Homo sapiens: one gene and its partners. The protein of the gene in region 2 interacts with the protein of the main gene of each other region in a biochemical or structural test. Each region holds a gene or a part of one and is shown on either strand. Other genes may lie near its edges.

Region 1 (4,396 bases), on a different chromosome or scaffold from region 2:
TGTATCTAGCTGAACCAAGCCTAAGTAGTACACAAAACTCACACCTAAACATGTACCAGCTACCTCACTCATCTCCCCACCTGTGTTGAGCAACCCTTCCGACGTCCACTTCCAAAAGCAAAGTGCATGTCTTCAAGATAAAAGGCCATATTTATTGTGATATAATTTCTCAACCATTTGACATATGTAAAAACCAAGCTATCCTTTTTTTTTAAATGTGTCACTCATTTGAGTGTTGTGCTTCAAGCCCCATTTTTCCCATGAGACCTGTGGTCTTTATTGTGCAATTTTGCATGGCATAGTGATTTTTAGGAACGCATAGGTCACATTATAAAGCAGAACTGACTATATTTGGGTCAGAGACCATGTACCCCACAAAGCCTAAATATCCAGCCCTTTACAGAAAAGGCTCAATGATCCCTGCTTTAGACCATTGACTTCCACCTCCTTACCTCATACAGTGCAGAAATAGACTTACCCACACACCAATCCAAGAAGCCAAAGCCAGTTTTATTTCACAATCATCTTTATTACAGTAGGATGATGGTCCTGGGCCACCAGCCTAAACCTTGCAGCCTTAGGAAAGACCTGTGTCAACAGGGCTTGCCTCCCTCTCTAGACAGGGGCTCAGCCACCTCCAGGGCATCCCTGCTGCATTTTCCCTGCTGGAGGATGGGGCAGAGGGACAATGGGAGAGGAGGGCATGACCCCACCCCAGGCTATAGCAGCTCCTTGGCCACAAAGATCCTTTTGCCAGTAGCAGAAGGGAGGAAAACAGCAACCACCAGGGTTACCACCACTTGTGGGATGGCCAGGACCCCATTATGTCCTCTTAAAGTTGTGCTCAAAGCAATTAATAAATTAAAATGAGCCTTCAGCAGCAAAGCTGTCAATCACACAGGAGAAGCTGAGCAGAAAGCAAAGCAAAGAGGAATTTATAGCTTCTCTGGCTGAGGCCTAGGCCCCTCCCTCTAGGAGCAGCTGTCAGCACGGACTACATAGGGGCCTCCAAAGTACTGAGAGGAGCCATCTAGACTATTCCCCCTCATATGTGTCTATCATGCATTAAATTTTAGAGGGACCCCAATCCAAATGCAATAACCCTAGAAGGGACAACACCTTTAGAAGGCACTAGAGCATTTTGGCAGTTGAAAACATGAGAGCCCCCAGGGGTGGGGGGGGGCGTTCAAAAGGAATGCTGGTGTATGTATCCAATTCTGTCCCATCAGCCTGGCCCACCCCCAGCTAGAGTTGGGAAAGGCGCTGCTGGTCAGATGCAGGGAGGAGGAGCTTGACTAGCCACCGAAATGCAGACATGGCTGGCCGGGCCCCTTAGTGCACACTGCGGGGATGGGTAGGACCAGATCCCTTGGGCTTTGTGAAGGGGGAACAGACGCCCCTTCAGGCTTAGATGTGGTGTGGTTCCTGGAGGCAGGGAGGTGGGTGGCAGCGGCCCCTCCTCTGCTTAGTGGCCACTCCAGAGGGCCTCTCCAGGGCTACAGGTGTATGGCTGTGACATCTGTAGGAGTGCTGGTCTGGCTGGGCCCTTGGCTGCTGGAGCCCCGGGGGGCTTTGGGCGCTGGGCTGGAGCTGGTCTGAGAGGCTTCCCTGAGGCTCTCCCTGAGTGCAGCTTCGATCTGCTCCTGACAGGCCCGCAGGCAGTCCTGGGAACATGGGAGAAGAGTGAGGAGCAAACACTCCCCCCATAGCATCTGGCAGCAGGTGCAGGGGAAGGACAGCTCCCAACACATGGGGAAGTCTGGGGAGGTTAGGCCACAGCCCGGCCCCAGGAATCGCTCTTTAGTTCTCAGAAACTAGCAAGAGGATGTGGCAAGGGAGTGTGAGAGCAGCCCTGCATCTGACACCAAACCCCCCACCCCCACTCCAGCACACCACTTGGCAAGAAAAGAACCCCTAGGGCCAGTGCCCTTCACCCCACCCAAGATACTTGCTCTTCCCCAGACCAAGGCAGGAGATAAAAAGCCACAAAGCCCCAAGGTTGTGAAACCAGGACTTGGGACCAGGTTGGGGTTGGAGGTTTCCCTCTACTGGAGGCTCAGGGCATAGCACTACTTTATGAATGGAGAGGCTGCTGCCCAGCTACCCAGCACTCACCACTTCAGTGCCAGTGATCCCTGCCAGCAGCTCTGTGAGCTCATCCCCGGACATGGAGCAGGCACCCAGGCCTTGCACTGCAGCCCCAATGCTGCCCGTGGCGATCATGGATGGCGGGTACATGGCAAAGGTATAATCTTGGAGAGGAGGAAAGGGAACCATGAGAGAAGGAAACCTGAAGGATAACGGCCAGCATGGACTTCCGACTCCTTGGAAAGTGCCAGGCAGCATGAGTAGAGCAGAGGACATGCTGGAAAACTCCAGCAGTGGGTGGGGCAAGATATCAGCAAGGGAGGAAGACAGGAAAGAGTATCTTTCCTAGAGATCAGAACCAACTGCCAGTTTCCATAGGTCCCGGGAATAGACAAGACACTCCCTAGTATGGGAACACAACTAGGGCCAAGAGACTGGGGTTCTGTTCCCAACCTGTTCACTGTGAGACCTTGGGCAAGTCACTTCTCTCTATACCCTCAGTGTCCCCACTACAAACTGGAGGGGTCTGAGATCCCATATAGCTGATTATAACCTGCTTTTCTGCATTGAGACTGGGGGCTCAGAGGGGGTATAATTTTCACAAAGGAATTTTGACAGTATAAACCAGAATCTTCAGTTACCTCTCACCCTTATAAGTCTTCTGATTTTTCCAATTTGGCAAAAATGTGCATAGGGCTCTTACCTGTAGCACAGAGGGCCAAAAAGGTCTGGGCATGCTTTTTGACCAAGGCCTGTCGGTCACGGGGCAGAGAGAGCCGGTGCAGAATGAAGGCCAGGAAATCATGTGCAATCACAGCAGCCAGGTCCCACTTGAGCTTCCCTAGGACCAGCACCTCCCAGTCCTGAAAAAGCGGGGAAAGGGTGGGGTCAGTGGCTGGAGAAGTGAAGAGGAGGGAGCAAAGCAGAAGTCTCAAAGTCTCAGGCAGGGAAGCCCATCAAACTTTTAAAGCCCAAGACCCCAGTTCTGTTTCTGATTTTAAGGCCGGGCACCATGGAGTTCAAGGCAGGGAAGAGGAGGAGGCATGTGCTTTGAGCACTTACTGATCATTTACTAGGTGCCAGGACAACATGCTTTACATGGATTATCCCTTTTAATCCTGTCTGGTTATGTTTAAGGGGCCAATAATCCAGGCCTTCTCCTGACTTCATTCAGGGCTCTGAGGATTTCTCCAGCCAGGGCTGAAAGACGGAAGCAGCAGATACCACAGCATCACCATGAACTGGGCTCTCTTCTGGGATGAAGCAGAAAGACTCTCTCAACCCCAAGGATTTGTGAAAGGGGAGATCACCACTAGCTTCCCCTGCAACTCTGCATCCCAGCCAAGTCCACACTTCTTGAATCAACAGAAGGGAGTATGACTCCTCCAATGACAGCCACAGAGCCTTTTCTCAGGTTCCTCAAAGGGGAGATTGCCCAACCCAAGCCACATCCCCTTGGTAGGATATCAGGGATGGGTCCTGAGGTATAGCACCCCACCCCACCCCCTTTAGCTGGAACCCGTAGTGCCCCATGCCACTTGACTTTCAGGAGGATAGGTAGAGGCCAAGCCAGACAGGATGGCTCCAAATGATTCCAGAGGGATCAAGCCCTATCCTCACCTACCCAAGCCTACCTGCCAGTACTAGGTCTCGGGAGAAGGCTGGGAGCTCCACCCCAGTCCACTCGTCATGGGTTCCCAGACCTGGCCCCATTTCTGAGTTGCACACATGAGGATTTCTTCATTGTTTTATCTCAGGAAGGAACTTGTGGGTTTGACTCCTTATTGAGGCAGAAATGGCAACCCCACCCAACCTCTTCCAGGCCCCAGCCACAGCTGTCTCTCTCTTGGCCCCAGCTTAGGTGTCAGCCTCTCAAATCAACCCCTACCCTCACAGAGCCCCAGAGAAAATAGCCTGGCCTGGAGCCAGAAGTGAGACAGATAAATTACAACGCTACCCCTAGTGCATGTCCCAGGAGCCAACTCCTAACTCAGCAGTAAACAGAAGGGACTCAGCTTCTAAGGAAGCATCTGGAAGGCAACTGGGAGTGGGACTCTCCCTATGGGGAGGCAAGGGGTTGTGTTTGAGGGAAAGTGGCCACCTTTCCCCATATCCAGGCAACCAGAGAATCCCAGTGTTAACTGGTGGAGAACACACCCCTGGGAGTGCTTAGCTTCAGTAGGTGGCAGCGGCCATCACATTCCTGACTTTTAAGGCAACCTGGTCTAGCTAGAAGACCCAGGTTCTACACTCATCTGCTCAGTGCGATGCTGAGGCAGGACCTTGCCCTCCTTCCTTGGGCCTCAGC
Region 2 (4,997 bases):
TTCATCATAAACCCCACTTCCTTGGGAAGCAGAATGGAGTGCATCGGCATAAGTTGGGCCCCTTAGGAGTCCTGTTTCTGCACAGCAGTCATTTGTAATCCTCCAGGTCACTGGCACAGCCGCCATCTCTAATGGCAGACACAGTTTTGCCAGTAGCTGTTTGGTTTTCATTTTTGAGGGTCTCACGTAGGTGTCATATATTGACTGCACACTTCCTGGGAGTAGAGCACAGTTTGGTCCAGCACCTCTAATTTTCCTGGCTCAGGGCCTGCTTTAGGAATGGGAACCTCTTTTATCTCCTCTCTAGGAGAGAGCTAGCAAGACCATCAGTCGTCTGTCAGGTCCCCCAACTCAATAGGAAGCAGGACAATGTAGCAGTTAATTTGTGGCTTCTGAACCTAGCTGCTGAAGGTTCAAATCCCATCCCTTGCTAGTGTGGCATTGCTCAAGCTATCCTTTCTGTCAAATGGGGGTAATAATGATTCATCTCCCATAAGGTCCTTATAAGGATAAGGCAAATTGGTTTGCATAAAGCATTTATTTACAGCAGTACTTGCAACAAAGTAAGTGCTATATAAGTATGAGCCATTTTTATTACCATAAGCAAAGCTTTCTACATTGGTTGACTTGACAAACTTCTGGCAAACTTTTTTTCTCTTTGGAAATCATTCAGCAGGCACTGTTTACATCCTTTCGCTGCCATATCTCTAGCTTTCACTAAATCTGCCACACATTCCTGCCTTCTCTGTTGACCTCGCTTGGATTCTCCTACATGCTTCCAGTTAGCCAGCCAGAGGATTTTCCTGTCTCTGGGAATCTTGTGGAAAATCTTGCATTTTGGGGCACCTTCTCCTTCAGTTATAATGATATACCTTAAAAGTTTTACATTTACAAATGTCTATTTCACACTCTCATTCTAAAGTAGAATCGATGATGACCTTTTCTCCCCGTTCAGCCCCATAAAAACTCATTTTCCCCTCTTTTCTTTTCCTCCCAGCTCCTAGACTTCCTTTGGAGGAGTGGCCTAGGTGGTGGGGCCCAGGGCTGAGTAACTGATATTTCCAGGAGTTCCCCGAAGAAGGCAGGGCCAGAGGGAGAGCTGGGAAGGTGGTGACATTACAAAGACAAATGCATGTTATAGATGAGGCAACAGCATTATCCAAGGCTGAGGTGGAGAGCCCAGCAGGCCAGGGCCACATCGTGGTGGGGTAGGGTCTGATTCACATTGAGGCAGAGGTGAGTCTCCTTCCTTCTCCTTCTGATGGGTTGGTGGAGTTACAAGCCAGGGAAGGAAGGAAAGGGTCCCAGATCCAGACTTGCTCTTTCTGAAATCCAGGGCTTCCCCCAGGGACTGGGTCAGCCACCTGGGGAATGAGAGTGGGGGTCTGAGCTCAAACATGGTGTAGTGAAAAGGACACCGGACCATGACTCCAAAATCTGGTCCTGTCCTGGTCCACTTCTAAGACGGAGTTTCGCTCTTGTTGTCCAGGTTGGAGAGTAACGGCACGATCTCAGCTCACTGCAACCTCCACCTCCTGGGTTCAATTCTTCTGCCTCAGCCTCCTGAGTAGCTGGGATTACAGGCTTGCGCCACCATGCCCGGCTATTTTTTTTTTTTTTTTTTTTGTATTTTTAATAGAGACAGGGTTTCTCCATGTTGGTCAGGTTGGTCTCGAACTCCCGACCTCAGGTGATCCACCTACCTCGACCTCCCAAACTGCTGGGATTACAGGCGTGAGCCACCGCGCCGGGCCTGTCCTGGCCCACTTCTAGCTAGTTATATATGCTTGGGTGAGTCACGCCCTCCTCTGTCAGTTTTCCTGAATGAGGGGATTGACTCGTTTAGCAACTTACAAGTGTTTTCTCCCACTGAAGAGCAAGCTGGACCAATACGTTCTGCAGCTAAAATCAAACAAGGGTCTCTCCCTAGACCCTTGTAAAATAACAACAGCAATAATAATTAATGTACAGAAGTTTCACAATGTAAGTTCTCCCCCCATAAATATCTCCAAATCAGTGGTACCTGCTACCCTGTATATTAGACTATAATACAAATGGAGTCTGAGTCTGAAAACAACTCATATCTAATAAATTTAAGATTAAGCGATATATATGCTATTCTGCAGTAAGGAACGTGGCTTTCAGATGTTTTTCCACCTGAAGAATTCTGAGAGACATGGGGCCAGGTGGACACCAAGGCTCTTGCAGTGTGAAGTCTGATTCCTCTCTGGGTTTTCAGGGAACTACGGATGCAGGTGCAAGGACACAGCTTCCAGGAGTTGGGGCAGTCACGTTCCCACTGACTTTAACATTCCTGGTGACTCAGGGAATGCGGCCGCATTCCCCAAACTCAAGCACTGATCTGAAGAAGCCTCTGTGATCCACCTCGAAGAACGCCTTTCTGTACCGGTCCCGCACACCTACAGCTCACTCTCACAAAGACCCCACCTTGGAGTAAACGGACAGACGCTTCCCACCAGCTGGGCTGGGCTGGCTGCAGAGAGCATGCACTTGAAGTTGTATCACTCCGCCCCTGCCTCACAGGCACCTTTTGACTTTTGGGTGGTGGAGTGAGAATAAGAAGGCACCTTACCCTACATCACGGAACCCCCAAACACTCTCTCTGACTAGCCACCCGAGACTGCCCCGCTCTCCCTTCCCACACTCTGGGGTGCGGCAGCGCTAGCTCTTAGCCCTGTGGGTGAACAGCGGCCTTGCAACCACATTGAGGCGGCAGGGAGATCATGACTCAGCCGCTGGGGTCTGAAAATTCTTCTCCTCCATCCCACCCTGCCAGATGGAGAAGATGCGGCTCACTGCTTCTCCAGACCCTCTCCCCTGGGGAGGGGGTGGGGGAGCAGGCTCTCGGCTACTCTCGGTGATCCGAGGAGGACAGGGAGGGCTGGCTCTCCTGGGCAGGAGGTAAGGCACTGGCAGGGGGAGGACGAGGTCGGCAGGTGCTTTTCTGCAAACTGGGGACAATTCAGTCCTGCTACATGGATCCGTGGAAGGAGGGCTTCCACCTCAACCAACCCCTTAGACCCAGGGCGAGGAACTGTGAGCTTGGTGACAGGGACAGCTGTCATATTCTTCTGTGAGGCTGTTTTTGTCTGTTTTTCCTCCTTGGGTCTCTCAGCAGGTGGGTTCGTGCCTGGTGCTCCAGTGATGGGAAGAAAACCCACCTCACCACAGCTACTGCCCGTGAGAATATAACCAGGGCAATGGGATGTTGGTGGGCACTGAAGGGGGTGGGGTGGGAGCTGTGGGCCGATTATTTATCGTGAGTAGGCAGGAGAGGGAGACCCCACTAGGCGCTGGACAAGCGGGGCCTGCAGTGGGGGGAGGTGCAGGTGTCTCTGTCCCTGAGGAATGGATGCATTTCTCCTGTCTGTTCCCTCAACATCAGTCAGCAGCCACTTAGGCAGCGGTGGAGGCATCTCTGGGCAAGGCCCTGCCTCCAGCCTCTGCCCTCTGCCCCCACTTGGGTTTCTTTGTCAAACAAACAGCAACTCCTCATGGCTGAGGTCTCAAGGGACCGGGGAAAAGCCCGCAGGAAAGGGGTTAGGTTGGACAGGAGAGAGAATGGGCTGGGTGGATAGGGGAGGTGGCAGAGGAGGGGCTGAACCCCAGACGGGGTGAGGAGGGCTGCTGAGTAGCCGCCAGCCCCGGGCCTGGCACGTGGCCCTGGAGGAGCAGCCCCACCCAGGCACCGCCACAGGCTGTCCTAGTCAGGAGATCTCATTGCCAAACACTTCGAGCACAAGGGGCGTTAGCTTCATGCTGCACTCAGGCTGGAAGGAGAGGCAGCGGTACTGCTTGGAGTGCTCCTCATTGAGGCTGCGCAGGTCGGCTAGCTTCTGGATCATCTTGGCATAGAGCAGGTGGCTGCCCGGGGGCGGGTGGCGGCAGCGGATGTACGTCTGCAGTGTGTTGGACAGGCGGTCCTGGATGGCCTCAATCAGCGCGGCGTCCTGCACCCCAGGACGATCTGTGGGCACGGGGATAGAGAAGAAGGCACAGGAGCTCTCAGCTGGGCCCCTCACTGCTCAATCCCACCACCCCCCACCCACACAGACACTCAACGGCAGCACCCCCTAGGCCACCCCTCTATGACTGCTGACCGGTGATACCACTGCCTGGCCCCAAAGCCCTCCAGTGACTTCTCCGTGCATTTAGGATCCAGACCTAGGTCCTTCCATGGGCGCACCTGGCCCTGTCCCTGCCTGGCCTTGCTCCCTGTCCATGCTCTGTCCATCCCTCAGCGTCCCGATGCGCCATGCTCTCTGGCCACCAGCCTTCACATCTGTGCTCCCTCTGCTTGGAACTCTGCTCTGCTATCTTTGCCAGACTCTTACTGATCCTTTGGATAACAGCTTAAAAGGTCTTCCTCCAAAAGGCCATTCCTGGCAACACTCTACCTCTGTAGCCCAGACCACGTCAGCTTCCCTCCTTCTATTCTACCCTTCTGTAGCATCACTTACTTTATTTTTAAAACTCTTGCCTTGTTAGGAATTAATAATTAAATAACATTTGTTTAATGTTTCCTCCTAAGCTTCATGGGAGAGGAGCCTGTGTCCCATTTGCTGCTGAACCCCAGTACCTAGCATAGTGCCTGGTACCTAATAGGTGCTCAATAAATTGTTGCTAAGTGGATGAATGAATGAGAGAAGGCTGGCTGGGCAGGGGTAGAGGAGCCCATCTCCATTCCTTGAGCCTCCAGTCCAGGAAAGCATCCCTGGGCACAGGCCACTAGCACAGGCTGAGGCAGGGCCGCCCCTCTTTGGACCTCATCACCGACATCATGTCCCCAAGGTCACAATAACTTCCTCTTCGGCCTTTTCTCCCTCTTCTCACCTCTAACCAGCGGAAGAGGTCAAGGGTCACTGCACATTGCCTCCAAAATCAATCAGGTAAACTATATAGGCAGAACCATCTCTCAGGCTCCAAAGTTTTGTACCCTGCCCGCAAGAAACCTCAAATAACAGGAATGTTGAGCC
Region 3 (7,342 bases), on a different chromosome or scaffold from region 2:
CCAGCCTGGGCAACAAGAGCAACTCCGTCTCAAAAAAAAATATATATATATATATATATAAAGATGGAAAATTGTACACTATGTGCACTTGGCCACAATTTTTTTTAAAAGTCTTCCTTCCACTCACCCCACTTCGGCTCATCTCTTTTTGCTTTCTCATAAAGGTCTCTCCTGTTGATCGCAGCGAAGATCCACACGGCCATGGCCCACGCCTTCTCCTCCCCATTGAAGTCGATCATTAGCGTGGCTAGATCCACATGGTCTGCCTTCTCTGTCTGACCCCTCGGGAGGGGGATGCAGCCCTTCTGGGGAGGATAGTCCTCTAAGTGCATCTTAAATTTCTTCAAGTCCACATCCTCCAGGTCCTCCAGGTACCTGGCCAGCTTGCAGCGGGTGCTTGCCATCTTCATCTGCAGCTGTTTTCAGGGTCCTTAGGCTTCGGTCCACACTAAGATACCAGGCAGTGAACACGGCACACGGATGAGTCTTTTTTAAAGTCTCCACTTTGAGAGATATAAATTATCAAAAACTCAGCAAACAGAAAGAAAAAAATGTCACATGACTGTAACAAGTCAAAATCTTTAATTTTGAAAAGTTAGCCAAGGCCGGGCACAGTGGCTCACGCCTGTAATCCCAGCACTTTGAGAGGCCAAGGCAGGCAGATCACCTGAGCTGAGGAATTCAAGACCAGCCTGGCCAACATGGCAAAACTGTGTCTCTACTAAAAGTACAAAAATGAGCCGGGTGTGGTGGCGGGCGCCTGTAATCCCAGCTACTCAGGAAGTTGAGGTAGGAGAATTGATTGAACCCGGGAAGTGGAGGCTGCAGTGAGCCAAGATCACGCCACTGCACTCCAGCCTAGGCGACACAGCAAGACTCCATCTCAAAAAAAAAAAAGTTAGCCAAATGCTTACCAGAAAGTTCTCCTGTTGGCTCGATCCAGGAGTGTGTCCTGAGCCATGGAAGAAAGGTTTCCCTATGGAGGGAAAAATATGCAAACAAATCCATAAACAGGATTGTATTACAGTTTACGGTGAACAACCACTTCACGATGCCATCTTGACCCATCAGCAAGAAAATTTTTGTCCCGTTGATTACGGGGCTATGACATTGGACAAACTCTTCACTATTCCTCAACTTCAGTTTCCTCATCTACAAAATGAGAAAGCAGAAGAGAATGTTTTCAGTTCCTCCAAACTGAAGGCTCTGGCTCTTTGCTTCTGTTTTTGTGAGGGAAGAGGGATGAGAGACAATAGAAGGAGAAGGCCAGGAGGTGAGTAAGTGTGTTGATAACAGAACAGGACGTGGCTAGGGAGAGAGGAGAGAGAACATAAAAGCTTGCAGAGGAGGGGACAGTCTTTGACTGCACTTCTATCAACCAGTGGATTGAAGTGAGATGAAGCTGGGAGTGCATAATGGAGAATAATAAAAACATACATCCCTGTAATCCCAGCACTTTGGGAGGCCGAGGTGGGCGGATCACCTGAGGTCAGGAGTTGGAGACCAGGCTCACCAAACAACAGGGAGAAATCCCGTCTCTACTAAAAATACAAAAATTAACCGGGCATGGTACCAGGCACCTGTAATCCCAGCTACTCGGGAGGCTGAGGCAGGAGAATCGCTTGAACCCAGGAGGCGGAGGTTGCGATGAGCCAAGATCACACCACTGCACTCCAGCCTGGGCAATAAGAGCAAAACTCCATCTCAAAAAATAAAATAGAATAAAATAAAATAAATAAAAACATACATCCTTTAATGTCTCCTTGCAAAATTCGCAATTGTTATCATTATAATTCACATTAATTTAGAGCTTTCCACAGGCTAGGCACTCACTGATGTTTTTCCCCATCTAACCTGCACAGAGCTCTATGAGGTGCACCTATTCCTAGCCCCATTTTATAGATGCATAAACTGAGTCTTAGGGGGACTAGGAAGCCTGCCGAGGGGTTTAGAACCAGGAAGGAACAGAGCCAGGATTTTGACCAGAGATATGAGACCATGTCTTCCATCACTTGTTTCAGTCAGACAAAGACAAAGACAACAAAATAGATGACTAAAAGACACACTTCCCCAGCATTTATCACAGGTGTATCACTGCAGCATTCACCAACATAGTCTTCCCAACTAGACTGTGAGTTCCACAAAAACTAGCAATCACCTGCTGTATCTTTAGATCTTCCATATCTCCTAGAGTCCGGATGGATGAACAAGTTGGCTTTGTTTGGAATTGTTCCCTCCTTGATCCCTTGATTATACTCTATTTGGCAAAGCACCTCAACCTAAAGCCATAAATAACACTCAAGGGAGGCAGAGAGCCTGGAAAACGGTGGAGCTCTCCAAATTGGAATTTCTGTGACTGCAGTTCAATGTCAAGATGCCTCAGACTCACTCATCTCTCCCGTCCCATCTCCATTCCTGCCTATCTACTCCTCGCCTCCTGAGCCCTGCAAACCCAGCCCTGTGCATCCTGAGGTGACTGCTCTCCAGACAGCCCTATTAGCTCCGCATACCCTCCCAGCTCCTGCCCATCCTGAGGTGACTGCTCTCCAGACAGCCCTATTAGCTCCGCATACCCTCCCAGCTCCTGCCCCATCAGTCCTTCCATCTGCATCAGGATTCTGCCTTTCTTCTGTGCTCCTTCCACCCTAACACCAGCACAAAAATCTGCTGCCCTTTGGTCTTTAAGGAGGTTTGTTTCCTTCTGTATATCCCATCCATCTTCTCCCCTGGGAGGGATACTGGGCAAATCTGCTGAAGTCGTGGGTGTAAACTATGGTTGCTGCCGCTGTCCTCCCCGCTTCCCCCCGCCACATACACACACACGAACTTGCACACGTAGAGCCCAAATAATGATAAAAGAACATTCCAGAAATGTTGTTGAAGCACAACCTTGGAGACGCCAGAAGAAATTCCTAGTGCATTAACCAGGACAAGTTCTGCCCTCTGAACACAATCTCCCCCACTGCTCTCCCGGTCCTGTCGCCCACACTGCCCCGCGGAGCTGGACTTACCCAGATGCCAGCCTCAGGAACAGCTAGAGAGGAAATGCAATGAATTTATAGCAGTCGCAGCCCCAGAAGGGGCAGGAAGGATGTGGTCTCCACTTACATCAGAGCAGAGGCAGAGAGACTAATGGTTAATCACATAGCTGGATTTTCCAAATGGGATCAACAGTGTTGTCAAAACCGTGTCTCGGTTCCATACTGGGGTTCACCTTGCTCTCCTCTGAGGCACCCCACAGAAGCAGGGTGGGAGGCCAGTATGAGATGGGGCTGGGGGTCAAATCGGCAGTGCTAAATGGATGTTGCCTCTGACACTGCCCGCTGCAACGGCTCCACTGAGAGTGAGGGAAGTGAAACTAAGGACATGCCATGCGAGTGAGTAAAGAATCCAGAGCATGACCTGACCCAGCCTTCAAACTCCAGAGTCCATGCCCTGTCCTCTCACAGCAAGATGGCTGGAAGGCAGTACAGGTTCTCTCCGACATGTTCTACTTTTAAAGCACAAATTTTACTCCCTGACTCATTGACTCACCTGTTCCACTAACACTCACGGAATGGCTGGTATGTGGCAGGCATGCACACAAAGCCTCAGCTTGAGTAGCTTGAGGAGAGACACACACAGACCTACTCTGCAGCTCATGAGACGGCCGCAGGACCACAGACCGGCAAAGGCACAAGTTCAACAGAGCTTGGTGGGTGAGAGGCACTCGCTCAGCCTCTGGGTGAGTGAAAAGGACGAGCACCCAGTTCAGTGGAGGGATGTCAGCAAATGACTGGGTCTGTCTGTGCCTCATACCTGTAAAAGGGTGACAATAATTGCCTGCTACTTCTTTAGATCTTCCAAATCTCCTAGACTCAGGATGGATGAACAAGTGGTTTTGCTTGGAATTGCCCCCTCCTTGATCCCTTCATTATACTGCATTTGACCAAGCACTACATCAACCCAAATAACGGTACCTATCCTAGAAGGCTGTCAGAAAACACTGAGTGAATGGCTAAACGTGAGGCCTTTAAAACAGAGCCTGGCACAGAGAAGCTAGAATAAGCAGTTGGTTCCGATGACTACCACCTTTCTACAGAACTGCAGAGAGAATGCTCTACAACATGAGAGAGGCATCTAGTCCTGCTTAGGGGCATGACAGCAGACCTGAGTCTCCATGAACCAGGTGAAAGGTGTCATTCGGGGCTGGAGCTGAGGCAGGAGCAGCAAAAACTTCAGGTGCTGAAGCTAGAGAGAAAGCAGACCAAATATGCTCCAAAAGAAAGGAGCTCAGCCTGGGTGCAGTGGCTCATGCCTGTAATCCCAGCACTTTGAGAGGCCAAGGCAGGCAGATCACAAGGTCAGGAGTTTGAGACCAGCCTGGCCAACATGACGAAACCCCATCTCTACTAAAAATATAAAAAAAAATAGCTGGGTGTGGTGGCGGGCACCTGTAATCCCAGCTACTCAGGAAGCTGAGGCAAGAGAATCACTTGAACCTGGGAGGTGGAGGCTGCAGTGAGCTGAGATTGTGCCACTGCACTCCAGCCTGGGTGACAAGAGCAAGACTCCATTTCAAAAAAAAAAAAAGGAGCTCATTGGCTGAACCTGGGATCTTTTTGTTTTTGTTTGTTTAGTCAAGTTAATTTAGGTATAATTCAGCCGGGCGCAGTGGCTCACGCCTGTAATCCCAGCTCTCAGGGAGGCAAGAGGCGGGAGGATAGCTTGAGCCCAGGAGTTCGAGACCTGCCTGGGCAATATAGTGAGACCCCATTCTCCAGAAAAAGGAAAAAAAAAAGACAAATTTAGGTATAATTCATATGCAGTAAAAATCCATGCCTTTATAAAAACAGACCCATAGACCAGTGGAACAGAAATAAACTCAAGTATATGCAGTCAACTAATTCTTTGACAAGGTCACCAAGAAGACACAATGGAGAAAGGACAATCTCTTCAATAAAGATGTTGGCTATAGAAGTGTGAAAAAAAAATCAAGAAAAATATAAGATTTTGAAAAATTAAGCTTTTGGTGAAACTGGATTTCCACACGCAAAAGAATAAAACTTGGCACACACAAAAACCAACTCAAAATGGATTAAAGATCTAAACATAAGATCTAAAACTGTAAAACTCCTAGAAGAAAATAGAGAAGAAGCCAGGCATGGTGGCTCATGCCTGTAATCCCAGCACTCTGGGAGGCTGAGGCAGGAGGATCACCTGAGGCCAGAAGTTCACAGTCAGCCTGGGCAACATAGTGAGACTTTGTGTCTACAAAATTAAAAAAAAAAAAATTAGCCAGGCATGGTGCTGTGCACCTGTAGCCCAGCTACTCAGGAGGCCGAGGCAAGAAGATCACTTGAGCCCAGGAATTTGAGGTTACAGTGAGCTATAATGACACTACTGCATTCCAGCCTGGGTAACAGAATGAGACCCAATCTCTAAACAGATAAAAAACTAAATATAAAAAATAGAAAACAGAGGAGAAAACTTCTTGATATTAGCCTTGGCATGGATATTTTTAATGTCTCAACAAAAGCAAAGGAACAAAAGTAAAGATAAATAAGTGGGAATACATCAAAGTAAAAAGCTCCTGTATAGCAAAAGAAACAATCAACAGAGTGAAAAGGTAGCCAACAAATTGGAAGAAAATAGTTTTAAGCCATATATCAGATAAGTAGTTAATATGCAAAATATGTAAGGAATTCACACAACTCAAAGCATAAAACAAATAATCTGATTTTTAAAATGAAGAAAGGAACTGAATAGACATTTCTCTAAAAAAGAAACAAAAATGGTCAACATGTATACAAAAAAGTGCTCAACATCACTAATCATCAGGGAAATGCAAACCAAACCCACAATGAGGTACCACCTCAAACCTGTTAGGATGGCTATTAGCAAAATGACAAGAGACAAACATTGGCTAGGGCGTGAAGAACAGGGAACCCTTGCACATTGCTGCTGGGAATGCAGATTGGTGCAGCCATTGCAGAAAACAATATGGAGGTTCCTAAAGAAATTAAAAATAGAACTACCGTATGACCCAGCAATCCTTCTTCTGAGTGTGTATCCAAAGGAAATAAAATCACCACCTCACAAAGACATCTGTGCACTCATGTTCATAGCAGCATTATTCACCATGGTCCAGATAGGCAAACAACCCAAGTGTCTATTGACAGATGAATAAATAAAGAGTTTGGGGCATATATACACAATACAATCTTAGTTAGTATTAAAAATTGAGACTCTGCTATTTGCCACAACATAGATGAACCCGGTGGACTTTACACAAAGCATAATAAGCCAGGCACAGAAAGACAAACACTACATGATCTCACTCATATGTGGAACCTTAAAAAAAAAAAAAAAAAAAGTTAGGCCAGGAGTGGTGCCTCACACCTGTAATCCCAGCACTTTGGGAGGCTGAGGTGAGTGGATCACTTGAGCCCAAGAGCTTGAGACCAGCCTGGGCAAGATAGTGAGGCTTCACCTCTACCAAAAAAATGAAAAAAAGAAAAGAAAGGAGGGAGGGAGGGAAGGAAGCCAGGTGCAGTGGTGTGCACATGTCACCCCAGCTACTTGAGAGGCTGGGAGGCTGAGGTGGGAGGATTGCTTGAGTCTGGGAGGTCGAGGCTGCAGTGAGCCGAGATCACACCACTGCACTCCAGCCTGAGTGACAGACCGAGATCCTGTCTCAAAAAAAAATAGTTGAATATATAGAAACAGAGAGTTACCGGGGTAGAGGAAATAAAATGACGGTCAAAGGGTACGAAATTTCGGTTATGTAGGATAAATAAGCCGAGAGATCTAACAAACAGTGTGGGAACGATAGTTAAAAATATTATAAACCTGAAATTTGCTAAGAGAGATTTTAGATGTTTTTACCACCCACAAGAAAGATTATTATGTGAGATGGTGGCTATGTTAACTCATGTTAATTTGCTTGACTGCAGCAATCATTTCACTATGTATATCAAACTGCCATGTTATACACCTGAAATATGTACAATAAAATAAATATTCGCACCTTTTTCATGCACAGGCCTGTGAGTGCTCACAAGCATATAGCTACCCACCACCACAGCCCACACAGAGCACCTGCATCAGCTGCACATGCTCCCTGTGCAGCCTCTGTCCCCACCCACTGTGCTGCCACATAGTCAGCCTCTGTCCCCACCCGCAGCCCCACTTCTTCCACCTGCTAAAGCATTACCTTTTCCAGAGCATCACATAAACAGTGTGCAGCCTTTGGTGAGCGAGTCCGCTCACTTCATATGATGCCTGTGAGATTCAGATCAGTAGCTTATTCCTTTTTACTGCAGTTAAGTATTTCATGGGTTGGATAGGCCACAATTTGGTT
Region 4 (7,039 bases), on a different chromosome or scaffold from region 2:
TTGGAGACACAGTTAAGGCCATCTCTGGAGTTCCAGGTTGTCTGTGAGGTAGACCTGGTATCTGAATTCAAGTAAAGACCTGGAATACCTCATCGCCTGAATTCTGAACAGCAGATTCATGCTGGAGCAGAGCCAATTTCTTGAAACGGCAGGTTCTCGACACTTCTATATCACAGAAATGGAGCCTGAACTCATGGGGAAGAAAATAAAAACTTATCTACTGATCCATTCATCACAGTGCTTTGTCGACTAGCCACTATCATCATCTTTATAACTAGCAATCTAGAATACAACCATTACATTTAATGGAATTCTAAAATATAATCTTTTTACATATACTAGTATGTTTTTTAATTAACACAAAAATTTGCTGTCAAGAAAAATCTAGGTTTTTATTATCAGTGGACTTTTCCTATGAAAAACATTGTGATAAATTGAAGCCAAGAAAAACTTCAGGCCAGCCATGGTGTCTCCTGCCTGTAATCCCAGCATTTTGGGAGGCCAAGGTGGGAAGACAGCTTGAGGCCAGGAGTCTGAGACCAGCCTAGGCAACACAGCAAGACCATGTCTCTAATTTTAAAGAAATAAATAAGGCGAGGCACAGTGGTTCATGCCTGTAATCCCAGCACCTTGGAGAGGCTGAGACGGGATAATTGCTTGAGCCCAGGAGTTCGAGACCAGCCTGGGCAACACAGAGAGACTCCATCTCTACAAAAAATTAAAAATTAGCCAGATGTGGTAATGCAAGCCTGTAGTCCCAGATACTCAGGAGGCTGAGGCAGGAGGATCGCTTGAGCCCAGAAGGTCAAGGCTGCAGTGAGCCATGTTCACATCACTACACTCCAGCCTGGGCAATAGCGCAAGAGCCTGTCTCAAAAAAAATTAAAATAATAAATAAACAAGAAAAAAATAAAGACTAGAGAATAGCTAGAAAGAGTAAACTACCCAAATTTATATCAGCTAGAAAGCAGATTTAAAAACTGTGGTACAGTCATGAAATAAGTACTACTTTTTTTGTTTGTTTTGAGACAGAGTCTCACTCTGTTGCCCAGGCTGGAATTCAATGACACAATCTTGATTCACTGCAACCTCCACCTTCCCAGGTCAAGCAATGAAAATACTACTTTTAATATAAAAGAAGAAACTACTACATGCTGCAACACAGATCTGTTGCAAAAGCACTGTTCTAAGCAAAAGAAAACAGACACATGATTCCATTTCTATGAAATTCAAAAAGGAAAAGCATTACAGTGAGAGAAAGCAGAACAATGGTTGCTAGGTAGCCAGGACCTAGCCTAGGGGGAAGTGACTGAAAATACAAAGGGAAACCAGGTAACTTTTTGGGGTGATGAAAATGTCCTGTACCTGGATTGTGGTGGTGATTACACAACTGTACACATTTGCCGAAATTCATCAAACTGTACACCTAAAATGGGTTAATTTTACTGAATGTAAAGTATAACTCAATAAAGATGAAAGAGTCAAAGACATTTTATTAAGTGATACTGTCAGAAATTGAACAAATAACAGTACTTTAGCTGTGCAAGTAACATAAATTGTGTATTTACAAGTAAAATAACATTAAATATTAATACCTTCTTTAATATCCTGACAAAATGACAATGTTACAAAGCATGGTTATCTAAGAATTTATCGTATTTCTAATTTGGAAGGGGTTTTGTTACCACTACACTGATTGTCTCAAGAAAGTAATAAGAAATATGATCTCAGAGAATAATTTCTTATAGCCAAGTTCAATTGACTAATACCTCACCTGTCTATTAGTTCATGAAAATGCTGCAAACTTTTCACATGACAATCTTATTTCTCAAAGTGACCCCATGGAAAAATCACTGAATTTCAAGAATCCTGTCTTATCATCCTTATCTAACAATTACAAGTGACTGCTGACAAAAAATGCTGTCATACCGGAGGTTAAGAAGTTATAGCACTGAGGCCTGGCACAGTGGCTCACGCCTGTAATCCCAACACCCTGGGAGGCTAAGGCAGGTGAACACCTGAGGTCGGGAGTTCGAGACCAGCCTGACCAACATGGTCAAACCCCGTCTCCACTAAAAATACAAAATTAGCCAGGCGTGGTGGCTCACACCTATAATCTCAGCCACTTGGGAAGCTGAGGCAGGAGAATCACTTGAACCCGGGAGGCGGAAGTTGCAGTGAGCAGAGATCACGCCACTGCACTCGAGCCTGGGCAACAAGAGCGAAACTCCATCTCAAAAAAAAAAAAAAAAAAAAAAAGTTACAGCACTGAGCTTTAAGGAACTAAATAATTCCCCAGTGGCCCCTTCTTCTAAGGTTACAATCCAAATTCTAAGGTTATTCTACAAATGTCAAATTTTTTAACATGTTAGAACCCAATCAGCTTTATTAAGTAAAATTATCAAAATTGTCAATCAGAAATAAGCATTTATGAGACAACAGGAAAATCTGGGCAATTTTGTTATTAAGGTTTTTTCAGGTTTTTTTTTAAAGGCTTCATATTTTGAAATATATAGTGAAGATACAGCAATTAAATTACCTGATAGAGGAGAATAAATGGGGAGAGAGTTGAAATCAGATTGGCCATGAGTTGACAACTGTTAAGACTGTGTGATGGGAACATGGTTGTTCATCATACTATTCTCTCTACTCTTGTATATGCTTAAAATTTTCCAAAATAAAAGGCTTAAAAATAATACTCAGGGGAAAACTTAAAAACCAGTTCTAAAAATAAACCAACAATTCATAACCACAGTGAGCCAAGAGAAGAGGCTATTTTCACATGACCAGAATGCCAAGGAGTCAAAATGACAGAAACATGGATGCTAACTAGAGTCTGTTTTCTTAATTAGAAATATGTATAATATGGGCGAGCGCAGTGGCTCCCGCCTGTAATCCCAACACTTTGGGAGGCCTAGGTGGGCAGATCACGAGGTCAGGAGTTCAAGACCAGCGTGATCAACACGGTGAAACCCCATCTCTACTAAAAATACAAAAATTAGCCAGGTATGGTGGCGTGCGCCTGTACTCCCAGCTACTCAGGAGGCTGAGGCAGCAGAATCGCTTGAACCCGGGAGGCGGAGGTTGCAGTGAGCCAAGATTGTGCCAAAATGGCACCACTGCATTCCAGCGTGGGCAAGAGCGAGACTCAAAAAACAAAATAAATATGTATGATAAAATGAGGGAGGGGAGACATTAAGTACATCCTCCTGTAACATAAAATTGCTTCCTTTAATATACCTTATAAGATCTACGTCCATGTAACTCAGTCTTCAGCAATTAAATTTTCCTTTGGAAACTATTTCCTAAATAACCTAATGGTCTAATTGTTAGGGGAAAAAACCCTGACCTTTCCTAATTTCACCTATTATTCCTAGTCGTATTCCTGTGTATCCTGTAATTTTCTTCACAAGTGTCTGTTTATTCCTAGGCCTATGATTCAGTCACAGATATCCTGATTTATAAAATTGCTCTGCCTTTGTTTTGATTTTCTATTTTGCTTGGCTATTCTACACCCTGCTGTTAATCTTACTTAAGCAAATTCATTTAAACATTTTAGTTAGGCCAGACTGTACTTTTCCAATACAATAAATCTAGTATTGGTTTTTTATTGTTTGTTTTTGGTTTTGTTTTTGTTTTTGAGATGGAGTCTCGCTCTGTCACCCAAGCTGGAGTGCAGTGGCGCAATCTTGGCTCACTGCAACCTCCACCTCCCAGGTTCAAGCAATTCTCCTGCCTCAGCCTCTTGAGTAGCTGCAACTACAGGCATGCACCACCATGCCCAGCTAATTTTTGTATTTTTAGTAGAGATGGGGTTTCACCATGTTGGCCAGGCTGGTCTCAAACTTCTGACCTCAGATGATCCGCCCACCTCAGCCTCCCAAAGTGCTGGGATTACAGGCATGAGCCACCGCACCTGGCATAATGCATTTAGTATTGCTTTTAGGTAACAATCTCAATAATCAAATGGTGAGATTTTTCACTGATTTGGTAATATGATGCTCCATCCCACACAACCTAATGTCTGGGGGGTTTTTTTATTGATTTTTTTGTTTTTTTGTTTTTTGGTGCACCACAATAAAATTTCAAGCAGCTTTCAACTATTATAACCTCTACTCACCACAACCTTTGTTATGCTTCATATAATCCCTGGCATATTTTCTGGCTCCTACTGAGTGAAGATATGCCTGAGTCTTTAAAACCTCAAAGTTCTTAATAAACATAATGAGCACTCACTGAATGCCAAGACTTGTGCAAAAACACACTTTCTATGCCAACACTATCCAAGAGAACTTTCAGTGATGATGGCACTGCTCTGTATTTGCACTGTCCAATGTGGTAGTGAGTAGCTACGTGGCACTACAGTGCACTTAAAATGTGACTAGCTACAGATGAAGTGACTTAAATTTTTATTTAATTTTAATCAATCTTAATTAATTTTTTTTTCCTTTTTTTTGAGACAGAGTCTTGCTCTGTCGCCCAGGCTGGAGTGCAGTGGCGCGATCTTGGCTCACTGCAACCTCTGCCTCACGGGCTCAAGCTCTGTCTCACAGGCACAAGCAATTCTCCTGCCTCAACCTCTTGAGTAGCTGGGATTACAGGCGTCCACCACCACACCCAGCTAATTTTTGTATTTTTAGTAGAGATGGGGTTTCACCATGTTGGCCAGGCTAAGGGGTCTCGAACTCCTGACCTCAAGTGATTCGCCCGCCTCAGCCACCCAAAGTGCTGGGATTACAGGCATGAGCCACTGGCCGGGCCTTAATCTTAATTTAAACAGTCATGTTTTAAAAATTAAGAATATATATTGCGGCCAGGTACATTGGCTCATGCCTGTAATCCCAGCATTTTGGTAGGCTGAGGCAGATGGATCACCTGAGGTTAGGTTCAAGAGCAGCCTAGCCAACATGACGAAACCCCATCTCTACTAAAAATACAAAAATTAGCCAGACATAGTGGTATGCGTCTGTAACTTGGGAGGCTGAGGAAGGAGAATCGCTTGAACCCAGGAGGTGGACGTTGCATTGAGCCGAGATCCGGCCACTGCCTCCAGCCTAGGAGACAAAGCAAAACTGTGTCTCAAAAAAGAAAAAAAAAAAGAACGTATATTGCTTGAAATATTCTTCATAAAAGTCATTTTCACTTATTTTTACAACCAAATGCATTGAAGATCATCTAGGATGGGCTTCCTTAACCTTAGCACAACTGACATTTTGGACCCCGTAATTCTTTGTTGTGGGGGCTATCCTATGCATTATAGGATGTTTAGCAGCATCTCTGGCCTCCATCCACTAGAGGCCAGTAGCAATGCCCCAGCTGTGACAATAAAAAATGTCTCCAGACACTGCCCAATAAGGGGAGGGGGTTGTGTGTGGAGGGTGCAAAATCACACCAAGCTGAGAAGTACTAATCTAGAACTAAGAGTCGATTCTGCTCTGAATGCTAAGGATATTCTAGGGCAACTCTTTTGAGTTCCTGCTTTGCTATCTGGAAACCAGGCAACACGTAAAAAGTTAAAAGTAACCATCTCTTCGTAATGTTTTCCGTAGAATCCACATTATAATATTGATCTTTTCCCATCTACTGTCTCAACTGTTCCTCCCTGACCTTGAGGAGAGTGCTACACCTAATTCAGAGATTGATGTGGGGGGTTCTAAGAGGTTAAATGACTAGGCTACCAGCGCAGAGTTTGAAACTCCTGTCTATAGTATCTTACCTTGTGTTATGACACCTGAAAGGGAAACTCTAAGCTTAGAGAAAAATCCTTTTGATATGACAATCTCAATAAAGACTGTTTATGACTGCACAATACGTTGTAATGCCAAAAGGCAAATCTCACAGGAAAATTCCACATACAGACAAGCAATAAGAACTGGTTTGTTTCGTAACTAACCTGCATCTTGAGGAATAATTCAGGACAAGGACAATAAATGCCATAACCACATCACCTTAAGAAGACCTATCCTAACCTAGTACCAAGAAAAGGTTAAGAGCGTCAGCCTCTGAAAAAAAGGCATAAACCCATTAGGAGCCCTGGAAAGAGCAGTTGAGGGGAAAACGGAATCAAAACACTAAGACAGGTGGCCACACTGCCTGAAGGCTGGGATGTCTGAGACAGCAGAACCATTCTGGAATACAAGCCACGTGAAGTGGAATGGAGCCCTGGACTTTAAAGAAAAGTCAGAAGACCCATCAGGTGGACCTCAGCTGTCTCTCAGTAGTTGTATCCCTGCATAAACACTGTAAATCTCTGTGCCTATTTTTTCAGCTCATTAGTGAGGCACTTTCCAGGCTATTAGTGAGGCAGGCCTTTCAGCTCTCCCCTCAAGCTCGACGAACCACATTCTTTATATTGTTTTACTGTTTCTCTGAGACAATGTTTTAAGCAGGAACGTAGTACTAACTCAAGAAATCCATTGGAAAGGAGATCAAAATGTCCAAAGTATCTGAGCACTGAATGGTTTCAATTCAGCTCAATGAATATTTGCTTGAGGGCCCAGCATTCTGTGCCAGGCACCTTGTAATCATTCTGGGAAGTCACAGCCAACATCCTCTTCTTTCCACCCCAGCCATCCCCACCTGTATTTGTCAATTTCATCCTGGCATCATTATTATTCATTATTGGCAAGTCTGAAAACACAAATTATGAAAAAAAGATACTTTTTTATGCTTTGTACATTTTAGACACTTGAGACATCAGACTATGATGCTGAACAAAATATTTGACTTTTTAAGAGGATGTGGGTAAAGAAAGAAAACGTATTTGAAGAAAACACTACTGTTTTGAGGACCAAGTTTTCTTCAGCTGAGCAATTTATTTGCAGTACCATTCTGCCTGTCTAATCTTACTACTTTTATTCCAAAGTATAAAGTCTATTTACACCCTTTTCATACATAACTATGATTATCATTTTATTTGTGACTCTCATACATTTCTCATAATAAAAAAAGTCAAGCTACAGTAGCAGTAGCTTTTTTATTGCCCCAACTTACTAAAACTTGGTAAAGTTTTTATCTTTAGATGAAAATACGCTTATTC

Evidence for each region.
Region 1: the proteins of VDR (region 2) and CCND3 form a complex in vitro, tested with the Homo sapiens proteins (one study listed by BioGRID).
Region 3: the proteins of VDR (region 2) and NLRP3 form a complex in vitro, tested with the Homo sapiens proteins (one study listed by BioGRID).
Region 4: the proteins of VDR (region 2) and UBR5 form a complex in vitro, tested with the Homo sapiens proteins (one study listed by BioGRID).

Annotation. Positions count from the first base shown.
Region 1 is NC_000006.12:41,934,444-41,938,839, forward strand, and holds the end of CCND3 (G1/S-specific cyclin-D3), read right to left. Parts: exon of another isoform or gene 3,723-4,396; intron 2,952-3,722; coding exon 2,792-2,951; intron 2,253-2,791; coding exon 2,116-2,252; intron 1,665-2,115; coding exon 1,497-1,664; coding exon of another isoform or gene 1,408-1,496; 3' UTR 509-1,407; downstream 1-508. UniProt on the Homo sapiens protein: Regulatory component of the cyclin D3-CDK4 (DC) complex that phosphorylates and inhibits members of the retinoblastoma (RB) protein family including RB1 and regulates the cell-cycle during G(1)/S transition.
Region 2 is NC_000012.12:47,841,018-47,846,014, forward strand, and holds the end of VDR (vitamin D3 receptor), read right to left. Parts: intron 3,989-4,997; coding exon 3,729-3,988; coding exon of another isoform or gene 3,528-3,728; 3' UTR 520-3,527; downstream 1-519.
Region 3 is NC_000001.11:247,411,863-247,419,204, reverse strand, and holds the start of NLRP3 (NACHT, LRR and PYD domains-containing protein 3), read right to left. Parts: upstream 3,033-7,342; 5' UTR 3,012-3,032; exon of another isoform or gene 2,890-3,011; intron 2,793-2,889; exon of another isoform or gene 2,159-2,792; intron 1,153-2,158; 5' UTR 411-1,152; coding exon of another isoform or gene 405-410; coding exon 128-404; intron 1-127. UniProt on the Homo sapiens protein: Sensor component of the NLRP3 inflammasome, which mediates inflammasome activation in response to defects in membrane integrity, leading to secretion of inflammatory cytokines IL1B and IL18 and pyroptosis.
Region 4 is NC_000008.11:102,402,672-102,409,710, forward strand, and holds part of UBR5 (E3 ubiquitin-protein ligase UBR5), read right to left. Parts: intron 1-7,039. UniProt on the Homo sapiens protein: E3 ubiquitin-protein ligase involved in different protein quality control pathways in the cytoplasm and nucleus. Mainly acts as a ubiquitin chain elongator that extends pre-ubiquitinated substrates.